Homo sapiens: one gene and its partners. The protein of the gene in region 1 interacts with the protein of each later gene in a pairwise test. Each region holds a gene or a part of one and is shown in the gene's direction. Other genes may lie near its edges.

Region 1 (3,500 bases):
GGTGTGCTGCTGTGATCTGGTGCTGCTTTGACCTTGAAAGCAGGATAACGCATGCACTTACTTACCCCCGCATTACTTGGGTACCTTAAGGACTAGTGGTTCACAACTTACTTTAGGAGCTTTTATTTATTCTGTAACACGTGAGATCTGGTAAGACAGTGGGGGGTAAGGAAAACAGACAAGACCATGACTCTTCTTTCCCTCTTCCCCAAAACGTGCCTCTTGGAATAATCTTCAGTGTGCCCTCCAGCAGAGCCGAAATCAGGCAGGCATAGACTCCCTCCTCTCTCATCAAACCGCAGAAATAGAGTTCCTTCATCATAACCGCAAAGCTTCCTCCTCCCCTTTGCACCCTGCCTCAGCTGCATTTTCTTGTCGCTTCTACATGGGAGTGCTTGCTGTTCTGGGAAGAGTGGGGAGAAGCGGTGGGAATCCTTGAGCCAATTGAAACTGAGGTCATCTTCAGGAAAACCATGTCTTCCTGAAGTTGAAAGATTCAGGCACACCATACAGTCCTTTCCTCATGAATAATCTTGTTCTTTACTCATGGGAAATTGGGAGAGGTTAACCCCTCCCAAGTTTATGTTTGCAAATTCATGTTTATGGGTCCAGGTGAAAAACTTTTCTGAACACAGCATGCTACTTCTCTTATTACCTCTCTCTATTTAAAGAATGGCTAGGCTGAGCATGGTGGCTCACACCTGTAATCCCAGCACTTTGGGAGGCTGACATGGCAGGATTGCCTGAGCCCAGCAGTTCATGACTAAGCAACATATGGAGATTCTGTCTATATAAAAAAGTAAAAAATTAACTGGGTGTGGAAGTGCATACGTCTAGTCCCAAGCTACTTGGGAGGCTGAGGCAGGAGGAGTTGGAGGCTGCAGTGAGACGTGATTGTGCCGCTGTATCCAGCCTGGGTGACAGAAAAAGAAGAGACCCTTCCTTTAAAAAAAAAAAAAAGCCGGGCGTGGTGGCTCACGTCTGTAATCCCAGCACTTTGGGAGGCCAAGGCGGGCGGATCACCTGAGGTCAGGAGTTCTTGAGACCAGCCTGGCCAACACGGCAAAACCCTGTCTCTACTAAAATACAAAAATTAACTGGGCATGGTGGTGCACACCTACAATCCCAGCTACTCTGGAGGCTGAGACAGGAGAATCGCTTGAACCCAGGAGGCAGGGGTTGCAGTTAGGTAGGATCGTACCACTGCACTCCAGCCTGAGTAATAGAGTGAGACTCCATCTCAAAAAAAAAAAAAAAGGCTAAAGAATGTGGCAGTGTCCAATGGTTTGGAAACCCACCTTCTCCTTATCCTTAGCCAAGCATCTTTTCCTACTCCTACTTTAACCGTGCCCAATGCACAAGAAAACCTCTTTTTCCCTGCATTCTGCAAAATTCCAGAGCAACTAGCCTTGCTGATTGTATCACACCTCCATCAGCAACGTGATGCTGGGAATAGCGTACTGGCGAGCAGTTCCAATACTCTTAGGTGCTTTGTGAATGGACTGAAAGAGGCCCCTGCCTGTGTACCTACCGTCATCCTGAGTTGTTCAGCCTTAGCAGCAGCTACTGAAGAGAAACTGTTTTCATCACCCTATTATACCAAAACAAATGGCTAAACAAAACCTTGGAATCTTCCCTCTTGCATGGCTTCCCAGTTCATCCTCTTCTCATTCTGTGGCTTGCCATTCATCATCCCGTGAAGTTTTCCCTCTTCCTGAAATTGTAACCTAGGCTTCTTTTAATGCTCGTATTCTGTTGCTTATAATAGGAACCAGCAGCACAAACACTGTTGGGGCAACAGTGAACAGCCAAGCCGCCCAAGCTCAGCCTCCTGCCATGACGTCCAGCAGGAAGGGCACATTCACAGATGACTTGCACAAGTTGGTAGACAATTGGGCCCGAGATGCCATGAATCTCTCAGGCAGGAGAGGAAGCAAAGGGCACATGAATTACGAGGTAAGTCTCTCTTTTGCCGCAGAGAATCCGTAACACACATCTGAGTCAAGGTGATAGAAACAACTAAGCTGCTGCTTAACGTCTTACGCCACGACCTTCTTCAATTTTAATACTTTAGAAAAACAAGGCAAAAATCCCCCAGGTACCCTTTTATTTTTCCTTCCCTGAATTCCTAACCTCTTGTTGGTCAGCTCAACTTTTTCTTCTTCGTTTTTCCTTCGTCATCCTCAACTACACACACACAGACACACACGCACATGACATCCCTCCCTCTCATGAGGATTATTTTCACCCTTACTTGGTAAATATAAAGAGCCAATAAATACTACAGAAGACTGTTCTGCTGTATCTTACAGGATTATACTAGAAGTATATGTTAGCGCCACACATTTTATACCATGGCCCACACCAGACTTGACACGTGGTGGTTTTGTTTTCAGGGCCCTGGAATGGCAAGGAAGTTCTCTGCACCTGGGCAACTGTGCATCTCCATGACCTCGAACCTGGGTGGCTCTGCCCCCATCTCTGCAGCATCAGCTACCTCTCTAGGTCACTTCACCAAGTCTATGTGCCCCCCACAGCAGTATGGCTTTCCAGCTACCCCATTTGGCGCTCAATGGAGTGGGACGGGTGGCCCAGCACCACAGCCACTTGGCCAGTTCCAACCTGTGGGAACTGCCTCCTTGCAGAATTTCAACATCAGCAATTTGCAGAAATCCATCAGCAACCCCCCAGGCTCCAACCTGCGGACCACTTAGACCTAGAGACATTAACTGAATAGATCTGGGGGCAGGAGATGGAATGCTGAGGGGGTGGGTGGGGGTGGGAAGTAGCCTATATACTAACTACTAGTGCTGCATTTAACTGGTTATTTCTTGCCAGAGGGGAATGTTTTTAATACTGCATTGAGCCCTCAGAATGGAGAGTCTCCCCCGCTCCAGTTATTGGAATGGGAGAGGAAGGAAAGAACAGCTTTTTTGTCAAGGGGCAGCTTCAGACCATGCTTTCCTGTTTATCTATACTCAGTAATGAGGATGAGGGCTAGGAAAGTCTTGTTCATAAGGAAGCTGGAGAACTCAATGTAAAATCAAACCCATCTGTAATTTCGAGTGGGTGGAGCTCTTGCTTTTGGTACATGCCCTGAATCCCTCACTCCCTCAAGAATCCGAACCACAGGACAAAAACCACCTACTGGGCTCTCTCCTACCCTGCCCTCCTCCCTTTTTTTTACCCCTCTCTTTTTTATTTTTTCTTTGCTCTTTAGAACCCAGTGAAAAATACCAGGGTACTGGGGTGCAACTCTTTCTTATGATAGGTCATTAGTGCTTTAAGCAAAAGATATTAGCAGCTTTGACTGCAGCATTAGCAATTAGGAAAAAAAAAAAATTAAGTTCCCTGCGGACATGTAACTTTGCCATCAGTTTTGATGTGGAAACACTGTGATATATAAAATGTTGTTGGACAACAGTAGTTTTAAGAGTAAAATATGAAACGTTTAAAAAGTTCCAAAAAAAGCTAGCTCTGTCCTTTACTTATTGAGACAC
Region 2 (3,500 bases), on another chromosome or scaffold:
TGTGTCCCCAGACTCTAGCCAGTTCCTGATATGCAGTAGGTGCTCAGTAAATGTGTGCTGTTTGAAGGTTGAAAGGGCCTTGCACTTCCATCTCAAGGCAGCTTTGTTTCCTGTGTTTCCAGACTTTTTGAACATGCTGTTGTATACTTACTGTACTTCTTCACAGATTACAGACTTTAGTTTTGAGAGATTTTGCTTTTCCATCATTTTATCTGAAGGTTGAGAAAAAACATATTGAATGTATTACTTGAAAATGTAACCTGATAAACCGCTTAAAATGTAACCTGATATACCACTTAAAATGATTTGTTCTGTGTCCTAAATCTGGATACAGTGTAGCTCAGTCCTTTTAATAACTGTTAGTGAAAGTGCCATCATCCCCGTTTGATAAATGAGGAGACTGAGAAATGATGGTGTACTTATGTGCAACTGGAAGTCTTCAAGTCCCCAGAACTCTCTCAATACATTTGCCTAATGTGACCTTCTGCTCATTTGCCTCAATTCCACACACTTCTAGAATCTATTGGGGCTGGCCTGTAGATTTGGGATGAGATACCTTTATAACTTTTTGTTTTCCTATTTTCATTTTTAGACCTACGGAAAAGTAGAAAGAATAGTATAACGAATGCCCATATATATACCGTTTACGCTGATTCATTAGCTTCTAAGATTTTGACACATTTGGTTTACCTATTGATCCATGTATATACCATTTTTTCTGAAACAGTTGATAAGTGCGCCATCATAATTGTATTGCTTAAGTACTTCAGCATGTTCAGCATGTATCTCCTAAGCGTAAGGATATTGTACTTCATACCACTGTGCATTATCACACTCACGAAACTTTTCTTTTTTTGTTTTTTTGTTTTGTTTTGTTTTGTTTTTTTTGAGACGGAGTCTAGCTCTGTCGTCCAGGCTGGAGTGCAGTGGTGTGATCTTGGCTCACTACAACCTCCACCTCCCGGGTTCAAGCAATTCTCCCACCCTCAGGCTTCCGAGTAGCTGGGATTACAGGCATGCACCACCATGCCCAGCTAATTTTTTTGTATTTTTAGTAGAGACAGGGTTTCACCATGTTGGCCAGGCTGGTCTCAAACTCCTGACCTCAGGTGATCTGCCCATCTCCGCCTCCCAAAGCACTGGTATGACAGGCATGAGCCACCACAGCCTGCCATGAAACTTGTTCTTGATAGAATATTATCTAATAGTGTCCCAGTAATATACTTTTTAGGTAGTTGATTTTAGATTGAGCCAGGATACGGTCAAATATGAAGCACTGTACTTGGCAGTCATACTCTTTGGTCTCCTTTAGTCCAGCACAGTTCCCAGCTTTTACTTGTCTTTCATAATAGACATTTTTTAAGAGTCCAGGCCAGTTATTTTGTACATGTCCTATGATTGGGATGTTTAATTGCTTACTCGTGATCACACTCATGTTAAATACTGTTGACAAGAACATGGAGTAGGCCAGGCACGGTGGCTCACACCTGTAATCCCAGCACTTTGGGAGGCCGAGGCTTGCGGATCACTTGAGGTCAGGAGTATACACACACACACACACACACACACACACACACACACACCTGAGACTGGGTAATTTATAAAGAAAAGTTTAGTTGGCTCACAGTTCTACAGGCTGTACAGGAGGCATAGTGGCCTTTGCTTCCAGTGAGGCCTCAGGAAACACAATCGTGGCTCAAGGGGAAGCAGACACGTTTTACGTGGCCACAGCAGAATAAAGAGTGAGGAGGTGCTACGTAAACACTTTAAACCACCAGACCTCATGATAACTCACCATCACTAGAACAGCACCAAGGGGATGGTGCTCAACCATTCATGAGAAATCACCCCCACCAGGCCCCACCTCCAACATCAGGGATTACAATTTGGGACTGTCTAGTTGTTTATTCATGATCATACTCATGTTAAATACTATTGGCTAAAACATGGACTAGATGAATATGTCTAATTGTTTCCTCAGTATTTTCATTTTTTGACCATGTTATGTGATCATAAAAAATGACACAGATCCAAACCATATCACTTTTTTTAATGTAAAACTTCTTAAGGACCCGAGAGAACTGAGAACAAAGGGCCTTTTGGAAGTGGAGTTACTGCAGGCACTCACACAGCCTTCGACTTGTATCCCTGTAGCTAGTCAGCAAGTCTTTGCCAAGACTCTACCTACCAAAATTAGACTTCTTAAAAAGAATTAAAAAGCAGTTCAGAGCACCCAACTGACTTTTTTCCCTCTTGCAGAACACTTAAGGAGTTCCGTGATCGACCGAAAGGACTTAATAATCAAAAGGATTAAGCCCAAACCCCAGCAAGGAGATGACATCACAGTGGTAGACGTAGAGAAGCAGATTGAGGCCTTCCGCAGCCGCCTGATCCAGATGCTGGGGGAGCCTCTTGTCCCCCAACTCCAAGACAAAGTGCACTTGTTGAAGCTCCTGCTCTTCTATGCTGCGGACTTGAACCCTGATGCAGAGCCCTTTCAAAAGGGCTGGAGCGGCTCCTGAGGGCCTGCCAAGCACTGAATGCCAAGAATACCTCCTGAACTCTCTCTCCAACTGCTCAGAAGCTCTAAAAGCATGAAAAGTGGTTAAAATCTTACAGGACCAAACCTGCATTATTTAATCAGTAGGTTGTAATTTCTAACTCTAGTAAATATCTTTTTTTAAATAATCCTATCCTAGCCTGTTCTCAAATATGGCTTAAATATACAAGGTATATATATTTTTTAATAAATTATTTATCTATACTTTTTTGAAACAGGTTAATACTCTGTGCATCACATGTTTAACATTTTCATTCAAGATGTGGAAAAAATCCCTCTGCTGAACCTAGTCTATACACCAATATTATGTCATTCAAGGTACCGACAACCTGTTTCAGGAGAGAGACGTTCATTTTTCCCTAATGAAATGCAAGCATTCTGTTAGACCTATTATATTGCCTGTTAATTTGACTGTAATGAATAGGGGGTAGAAACAAAAGGATCAAGTGTGTTATAAAACATTTGATGTTAAAAGGAGACAATAAAAAGGCAATGGTTTTTCAAAATACCAAGTTCAGTGTGACTCTGGGTGGGTAGAGTGGAATAACTATTGTTAAAAGGACAAAAAAATAGCCACATTTGAGAAAGTAGTAAGGATTTTTATTGTCAAAACGAGATCATAATAGAAGACACAAATAAATTAATTGTTCTCATAATTTTAGACTCCAGGGCCTCTCTATGGAAAGGCCAGCTTCTTATACAGACAAGGTACTATCCAAAACAAAAAGCAGGTATTTGAGACAGTGTTCAAGACAACAAGTGAACTTGTACACAGTGAAGAGAAATAAAAAGGTGGCTTCTGTATTTCCCTCCCTCAGTAAGGTTATGTGTTGCATAAAGGGATGAGGCTCATTTTGGTGAAAAATGCTTTCATACAGAAAATTTTGAATTGAGTGACCTCCCCGCACAGGCGTTCCAGGCCCTGACCTGAACAAGGAAA
Region 3 (3,500 bases), on another chromosome or scaffold:
TGATTTAATATCAAATAGTGACTGATACTCTATGACAGATGGAATAAAGTATTTCCTAGCAGAGAGTGCAGGTTAAAATGGAAGCACACCTACTTGAGAAACAAGGTGGTGACGTAGGAAAAAAGTCATGGCTTTACAGGGGTAAAATCCGTCACTTTATAGGGGTAGAAAATGACAGCATAAAAATGTAGAGCTATAGATCTCTGTCTTTTTCTAGATCTTAATTTTGGAATGCGTGCTATAACTTTTAAATACAACTGTTCTCATTACCTTTTACTTAGAACCTACGAATAGTTAACTTTTCTGTATGTACTCTGGGCATTATCTTTATGACTACAACATGCTTTCTCTTAAGCGCTTGTGTAATATTTTGGCTCTTCATCTTATGTTGAGGTACTAGACTTTTCTGAATGCTAAAACAGTGTTCAACGTAAGTTTGCTACTTGAAAGTCATAACTCTGCTGCATGATGATACAGTTCTCCAGGCTTCAGGGGCATTTCTGTACTTGTTGAAATAATGGGTTTATTTCCCCCCACTTTCCTTTCCCACACCTTGTGAGTAGCATTTGAAATTGTAAGTATAAAGCACTTGTAAGTGCTCAGTAAAAGGGTTTTTTTTTTTGTTTTGGTTTGTTTGCTTTTAAAAATTATATGCTGTATGTATTATTATAGATTTAGCGCTCCATATGAAACAAAACTCAATTTTTACTCCCTCAAATATATTATTATAGCTGTATACAAACCTCTAATCTGGTACTTGTGACAACGTAATATATTTATATCTGTACCACTGACTAGACTGTGAGCCCCTTGAAGGCAAGAGCCACCTTACTTTTTATAACCTCAGTGCTTGAGAGAGCCTGGCACATTAAAAAATAATGCCCCTCCCAACAACCATATCCAATTTATGTTTTCATTTTTTCTTTCTTCCTTAAGGTTTGGCATAGAAATGGTACCCCTTGTTCAAAATGAACAAGAAGCCTTAGATTTGGATGGGGAACCTGATCTGTCCAGTCTAGAAGGATTCCAGTGGGAAGGTGTTTCCATTTCCTCGTCCCCTGGCTTGGCAAGAAAGCGAAGCCTTTCTGAGAGCAGCGTGATCATGGACAGAGCTCCTTCTGTGTATAGCTTCTTCAGTGAGGAAGGTACAGGCAAAGAAAATGAGCCCCAGCAGATGGTTTCACCTAGTAACTCATTGAGGGCTGGACAGAGCCAGAAAGCAACCATGCACCTCAAACAAGAAGTGACACCTCGGGCTGCCTCCCTCCGAACAGGTGAAAGGGCTGAAAATGTTGCTACCCAAAGGCGACATAGTGCACAATTATCCTCTGACCATATAATACCTTTGATGCATTTGGCAAAAGACTTGAACAGCCAGGAGAGGTCTATACCACCGTCAGAGAATCAGAATTCCCAGGAGAGTAATGGAGAGGGAAACTGTCTGTCATCAAGCGCATCCTCAGCCCTTGCGATCTCCAGTTTAGCGGATGCAGCCACAGATAGTAGCTGTACCTCTGGTGCTGAACAAAATGATGGCCAAAGTATTAGAAAGAAACGAAGAGCCACTGGAGTGAGTATAATTCCCTCTGCTTTTTGTAGAACATCGCATGTGGCAAGTTGGTTGCTTATGAAAAAAGGTTCAACTGTTTTTCTTGGGTATCTGGGATTGTGATTCTCTCAACTTCTAGAAGAATTGTGAGGTTCTTACTTTCATCCTACTGGTTTCTTACACTGAGTAATTCTGCTAAATTAAATGTAATCTAATATGAATGTACAGTACCAGGAAAATATGAAGTCATATCTAAAACCAGTGTCCAAGCCAATGATTCTTTGTATCACCTGACCAAGGATAAGTCACATATTCAGCTGTAACCCAATCTGTTTTCATAGATGCGTTCTGCACTGCTACTGAAGAAAGGCGTTCTACTGTTGCACTTGTAGGGCATGGATGATTGCTGGATTCAGGAGTGATAGGCTTAACACTAAGATGGTTTTAATACTATTAGAGTGCATATATATGAGCAGAGTATAGAAATATTTTTAGTCTGTGTAACTCTGTCCTTCGTCCTTCAGTTACCCACCCTGGCCTTTAAGAGTCTTTTATTTCACTGATACCACTTCTGCTCTTCCGGCATTTCTGCCGCTAATATTGGCTTAACCCTCTCAGTATCCCTTTCTGAAAAGAAAGAGTTGCTGGTAGTGATACAGTCTGGGATCTGGCAATGTGAAAAAAAATGGGTTCTTCTCTTCATTATTTATTTATTTATTTTATAATATTTTAAAATTTATATTAGAGATGAGGTCTCACAATGTTGTCCATACTGCTCTGGAACTCCTGAACTCAAGCAGTCCTCCTGCCTCAGCCTCCCAAGTAGCGGGGACTACAAGCATGTGTCACTGTGCTGGGCTTCTCTCATTTAATACTGAGGTGATAAGCATAGTAGTTAAGGTCATGAATTTTAGACTTGCTTCAAATTGCAATTCTGCTCCTTTGAGCTAGATGCTATATGTAGTGGATGTTACTGGATGACTTAAAATACACTTCAAGCTGAGGGATTGTCCTATGACAAAGAGCTTGTCTCATGGACTGTTAAGCTTTTTGTTGTAAAGGTTTTCTTGCTGAAATTTAAAGTAGAAACTATGCCAAGTTATAAATCAGATATATTTATTTTACTGGCTTTGTCTATACTTCTACTTGTGCCTTACTACACCAAGATGAAATGCTTTCCCTGACCTCCATGGGCTTTCCTACCTCTAGGATGCTAGGAGGCACTTCACCCTGGATTCTTTTTTTTTAAATCAGATACGTTTATTCAACTAAAGTTTGCGTTGGTACCACGTGCGTGAGACTTCTACGATCATGTTAGAGATGGTAGCAATAGTGAAGAACAGTGTATGGCTATCTTAGAATTGATTCCTTTTTCTCCTCTTGGATAATGGCTTTTACACATTGGATTTTATTCAGTTTTCTTTATCCTTCCAGGATGGATCTTCTCCTGAACTCCCAAGTCTTGAGAGAAAAAATAAAAGAAGGAAAATTAAAGGAAAAAAAGGTATGGTGCAGAATATTTTGGAAGAAAGAAGTTGGTGTTTTTTGGTTTTTTTTGGGGGGTGCGGGTTTTTGGTAACCTCCAACTCTTGGGCTCAAGCAATCCTCTTCTCTCAGCCTCCCGAGCAGCTAGGACTACTGGTATGTGACACTACATTAATTCTTTTATTTTTTTGTAGAGACAGGGTCTAGCTATATTGCCCAGGCTGGACTCAAACTCCTGGACTCCAGTGATCCTCTCACCTTGGCCTCCCAAAGTGTTAGGATTATAGATGTGAGCCACCGTGCCCAGCCCCAAGAGGTTCTTGTAGCAGTTCAGCGTTTGTGCAGCTTGACACAGAGCATAGCTTGTCATTTATCAAACACTGATTGTCCATTTACTTTTTTTGGACATTTTTGTTGCCTTGCTTAAGAGGAAAGAAAAGTTTGATTTCCTAATACATCCAGTTAA
Region 4 (3,500 bases), on another chromosome or scaffold:
GCTCGATGAAGTGGAAACCAAGTTGTAATGTTGGAAGCTGTTTTCTTGTAAACCATATTTTATGTTTTGGAGTGATTCTTACTGGATGGCTCATGACAGGTGGTGCTACAGTCCCGAGACTACAATGCACTCTCCATGTCTGTGATGGCATTCGTGGCAATGATCTACCCACTGGAGTATATGTTTCCTGTCATCCCGCTGCTACCCACCTGCATGGCATCAGCAGAGCAGGTGAGTCTCAAGGCGACTTCCGGCTTTCTCACCTCTGTCTTCCTGAGGGAGGAGGCTTAATGCTCAAAGAAGTTGTAAGTGAGTGCTGGTCCTCAATCCTTTGTCATAACTTATTTGTCTACAAAATCTGACTGATTTGAACTGATCTGGTGGCAAGGCTTATGCTATTTTAGTTTTCATTTATCACAACAAATGTTAATGACTGTAGGCCACTGGCTACACTGCAGCAGGTGTTACGTGTGTTACGTAATACAGTAGTTCCTCCTTATCTGTGGAGGACACATTCCAAGACCCACCAGTGGATGCCTCAAACCACAGATAGTTCCAAACTCTATAGATACTTTGTTTTTTTCTATACATATATACCGGTGATACCGTTTAATTTATGAATTAGACACAGTAAGAGAGTAACAGTTTTCTCTTTGGGCATATATTTGGTGTTTTTTGGAGACAGAGTCTCCCTCTATCCCCCAGGCTGGAGTACAGTGGCACAATCTCGGCCCACTGGAGCCTCTGCCTTCCAGGTTCAAGTGATTCTCCTGCTTCAGCCTCCCTAGTAGCTGGGATTACAGGCACTGCCACCACCACACACCAAATAATTTTTTGTATTTTTAGTAGAGGCGGGGTTTCACCATGTTGGCTGGGCTGGTCTTGAACTCTTGACCTTAGGTGATCCGCCTGCCTCAGCCTCCCAAAGTGCTGGGATTACAGGCATGAGCCACCGTGCCCAGCCTCTTTCTACATATATTTGGCTTCTCTTTGGCATATCCCAATTGCCAGCATCAGTACCCTTGTGCTTTGGGGCCATTATTAAGTAAAATAAGGGTTACTTGAACACAAACGCTGAGATTGTGTGACAGTTGATCTGATAACCGAGATGGCTACAGGCTGGACACAGGGGTGATTCATGTCTGGGTGGGACAGAGCGGGACAGCATGAGATTTCATCATGCTTCTCAGAACTATTGTCCTGCACTTCAGATATGATCAAGCTGCAGTTTAAAATTTATGAATTGTTTATTTCTGGAATTTTCCTTTTAATATTTTCAGACTACAGTTTGCCTCAGTTAACTGGAATCACAGAAAGTGAAACTGTGGATAAGAAAGACTACTGTATACAAAAAAATGTACCATGTTACCTTTCAAAAAATCTGAAAAATTCTGAATTTTCAAATACATCTGGCCTCAAGAGTTTTGGAAGAGGGATTGTATCTGCATTTCCTTATCTAGAAGAATCCAGACTTGATAAGTGCTCATGATAGGTTTTGTCTTTGTTTCTCACCTTCTTTATCATTTCCACAGCTGCTGTTGGCTCCAACCCCGTACATCATTGGGGTTCCTGCCAGCTTCTTCCTCTACAAACTGGACTTCAAAATGCCTGATGATGTATGGCTAGTGGATCTGGACAGCAATAGGGTGAGGTTCTTGGCTGAGGCATTGTAGAGTCTAGAGGAGGATTGCATTCTAGACCCAGTCCTGAGATATCTGTTTCTAGATTCCTTTCAGGAACGTCCTAAGTTGTTGGATAATTTCTATTGCGAGACTTACTGAAACAAGTTTTTTTAAATGCTCCTTTTACCTTATTAGCCAAATAAACCCTTGGTTAGGTCTCAGAGAATTACAGGATTTATTTTTGCCAGAATTAAGTGACCCCCCACCATATCCTCCAAGAGCAGTCAGACAGTTGTGATCTGAGGGCCATTACATGTGGTATAGATCATCTCTTAATGGTTTCCCTGGGGTATAGTTTCCAGTAAGAAACTGTCTTTCAGTGCAGGCTTAATTAATTATATGACCATTCTGCAATGTGAATACATTCAGACTTTGGTGGGAAGCCCTTATGTGTGCTCATTGTAAAACTTAAAAAAAATAAAAATAAGCGTAAATAAAATAAGTGAAAAGAAAAACCATAATCCTTTTATCTAGAGATAATAACCAATAACATTAAGTTATATTTCATTTCAGATGCATATGTATGTCATATATGTGTGTACATATATCTTACTGTGCAGTTATATAATGTATATTCGTTTATATAATAATAATGTATATACGTCCTCTTATTTTTATTTATGTAAGTGAAATTCCTGAGCAATAAACTCTAAGGTCACGTCTTTTATCATTTCTCTGGTGCAGGTGATTGCCCCCACCAATGCAGAAGTGCTGCCTATCCTGCCAGAACCAGAATCACTAGAGCTGAAAAAGCATTTAAAGCAGGTAGGTGAAGAACGAAGGAAAGAAAGGGGAGTATTAGATGCTGTGGGATTCCTATAAGAAGACAGCTATTCTCAGAGCCAATTTCCTATCAAACTTCAAGTGGAGTAGTTTTCTTCACCCTGGATGGGCTTAAGAAAACGCGTATCCCATTTCTGGGTGGCAGAGTGAATTTCTGTTTTTGATTCCAATTCATTGTATGCTTTACCATCTTCTAATGCTTATGATGCTGTATAAAATAGCCCTTCACTCTCTGTTTCTTGTATGTGTGCCACTCTCTATGGCTTCAGAACATTTTCTCAGTCTTTTTTTTTTTTTTTTTTTGAGATGTGGAGTCTTGCTCTGTCCCCTAGGCTGGAGTGCAGTGGCGCGATCTCGGCTCACTGCAAGCTCTGCCTTCTGAGTTCACGCCATTCTTCTGCCTCTCCAGGAGCTGGGACTATAGGCGCACGCCGCCACACCCGGCTAATTTTTTTGTATTTTTGGTAGAGACGGGGTTTTGCCATGTTAGCCAGGATGGCCTCTATCTCCTGACCTCATGATCCGCCTGCCTCAGCCTCCCGAAGTGCTGGGATTACAGGCGTGAGCCACTGCGCCCGGCCGATTTTCTCAGTCTTGTTAGGTGGAAGTTAGTAGTGTGGACCGTCTGGCTGCTTTTATATTATCTTCTAGAGTTGATCCTGAGGGTTCCTTTCTTCAAAAATTCCTTTATTTGGCTGGGCACGGTGCCTCATGCCTGTAATCCCAGCACTTTGGGAGGCCGAGGCAGGTGAATCACGAGGTCAGGAGTTGAAGACCAGCCTGGCCATTATGTTGAAACCCTGTCTCTACTAAAAATACAAAAATTAGCCGGGCATGGTGGTGGACGCCCGTAGTCCAGCTACTCAGGAGGCTGAGGTAGAAGAATCACTTGAACCCAGGAGGCAGAGGTTGCAGTGAGCCAAGATTGCGCCATTGCACTCCTGCCTGGGCCACAGAGTGAGACTCAGTCTCAAACAAACAAAAAAATTCCTTTCTTTGAGTAATTCCTCACATCCATTTTTTATTGATTGATTT

Evidence for each region. Proteins that work in one complex are often made in the same cells at the same time.
Region 2: the proteins of WNK1 (region 1) and SIMC1 interact in a two-hybrid assay, tested with the Homo sapiens proteins (one large-scale study listed by IntAct).
Region 3: the proteins of WNK1 (region 1) and ZNF106 interact in a two-hybrid assay, tested with the Homo sapiens proteins (one large-scale study listed by BioGRID).
Region 4: the proteins of WNK1 (region 1) and MADD interact in a two-hybrid assay, tested with the Homo sapiens proteins (one large-scale study listed by IntAct).

What each region holds. Positions count from the first base shown.
Region 1 is NC_000012.12:906,079-909,578, forward strand, and holds part of WNK1 (serine/threonine-protein kinase WNK1), read left to right. Parts: intron 1-1,768; coding exon 1,769-1,956; intron 1,957-2,396; coding exon 2,397-2,714; 3' UTR 2,715-3,500. UniProt on the Homo sapiens protein: Serine/threonine-protein kinase component of the WNK1-SPAK/OSR1 kinase cascade, which acts as a key regulator of blood pressure and regulatory volume increase by promoting ion influx.
Region 2 is NC_000005.10:176,342,924-176,346,423, forward strand, and holds the end of SIMC1 (SUMO-interacting motif-containing protein 1), read left to right. Parts: intron 1-2,259; coding exon 2,260-2,522; 3' UTR 2,523-3,066; downstream 3,067-3,500.
Region 3 is NC_000015.10:42,446,142-42,449,641, reverse strand, and holds part of ZNF106 (zinc finger protein 106), read left to right. Parts: intron 1-936; coding exon 937-1,570; intron 1,571-2,965; coding exon of another isoform or gene 2,966-2,983; coding exon 2,984-3,053; intron 3,054-3,500. UniProt on the Homo sapiens protein: RNA-binding protein. Specifically binds to 5'-GGGGCC-3' sequence repeats in RNA. Essential for maintenance of peripheral motor neuron and skeletal muscle function.
Region 4 is NC_000011.10:47,276,633-47,280,132, forward strand, and holds part of MADD (MAP kinase-activating death domain protein), read left to right. Parts: intron 1-99; coding exon 100-231; intron 232-1,532; coding exon 1,533-1,646; intron 1,647-2,366; coding exon 2,367-2,447; intron 2,448-3,500. UniProt on the Homo sapiens protein: Guanyl-nucleotide exchange factor that regulates small GTPases of the Rab family. Converts GDP-bound inactive form of RAB27A and RAB27B to the GTP-bound active forms.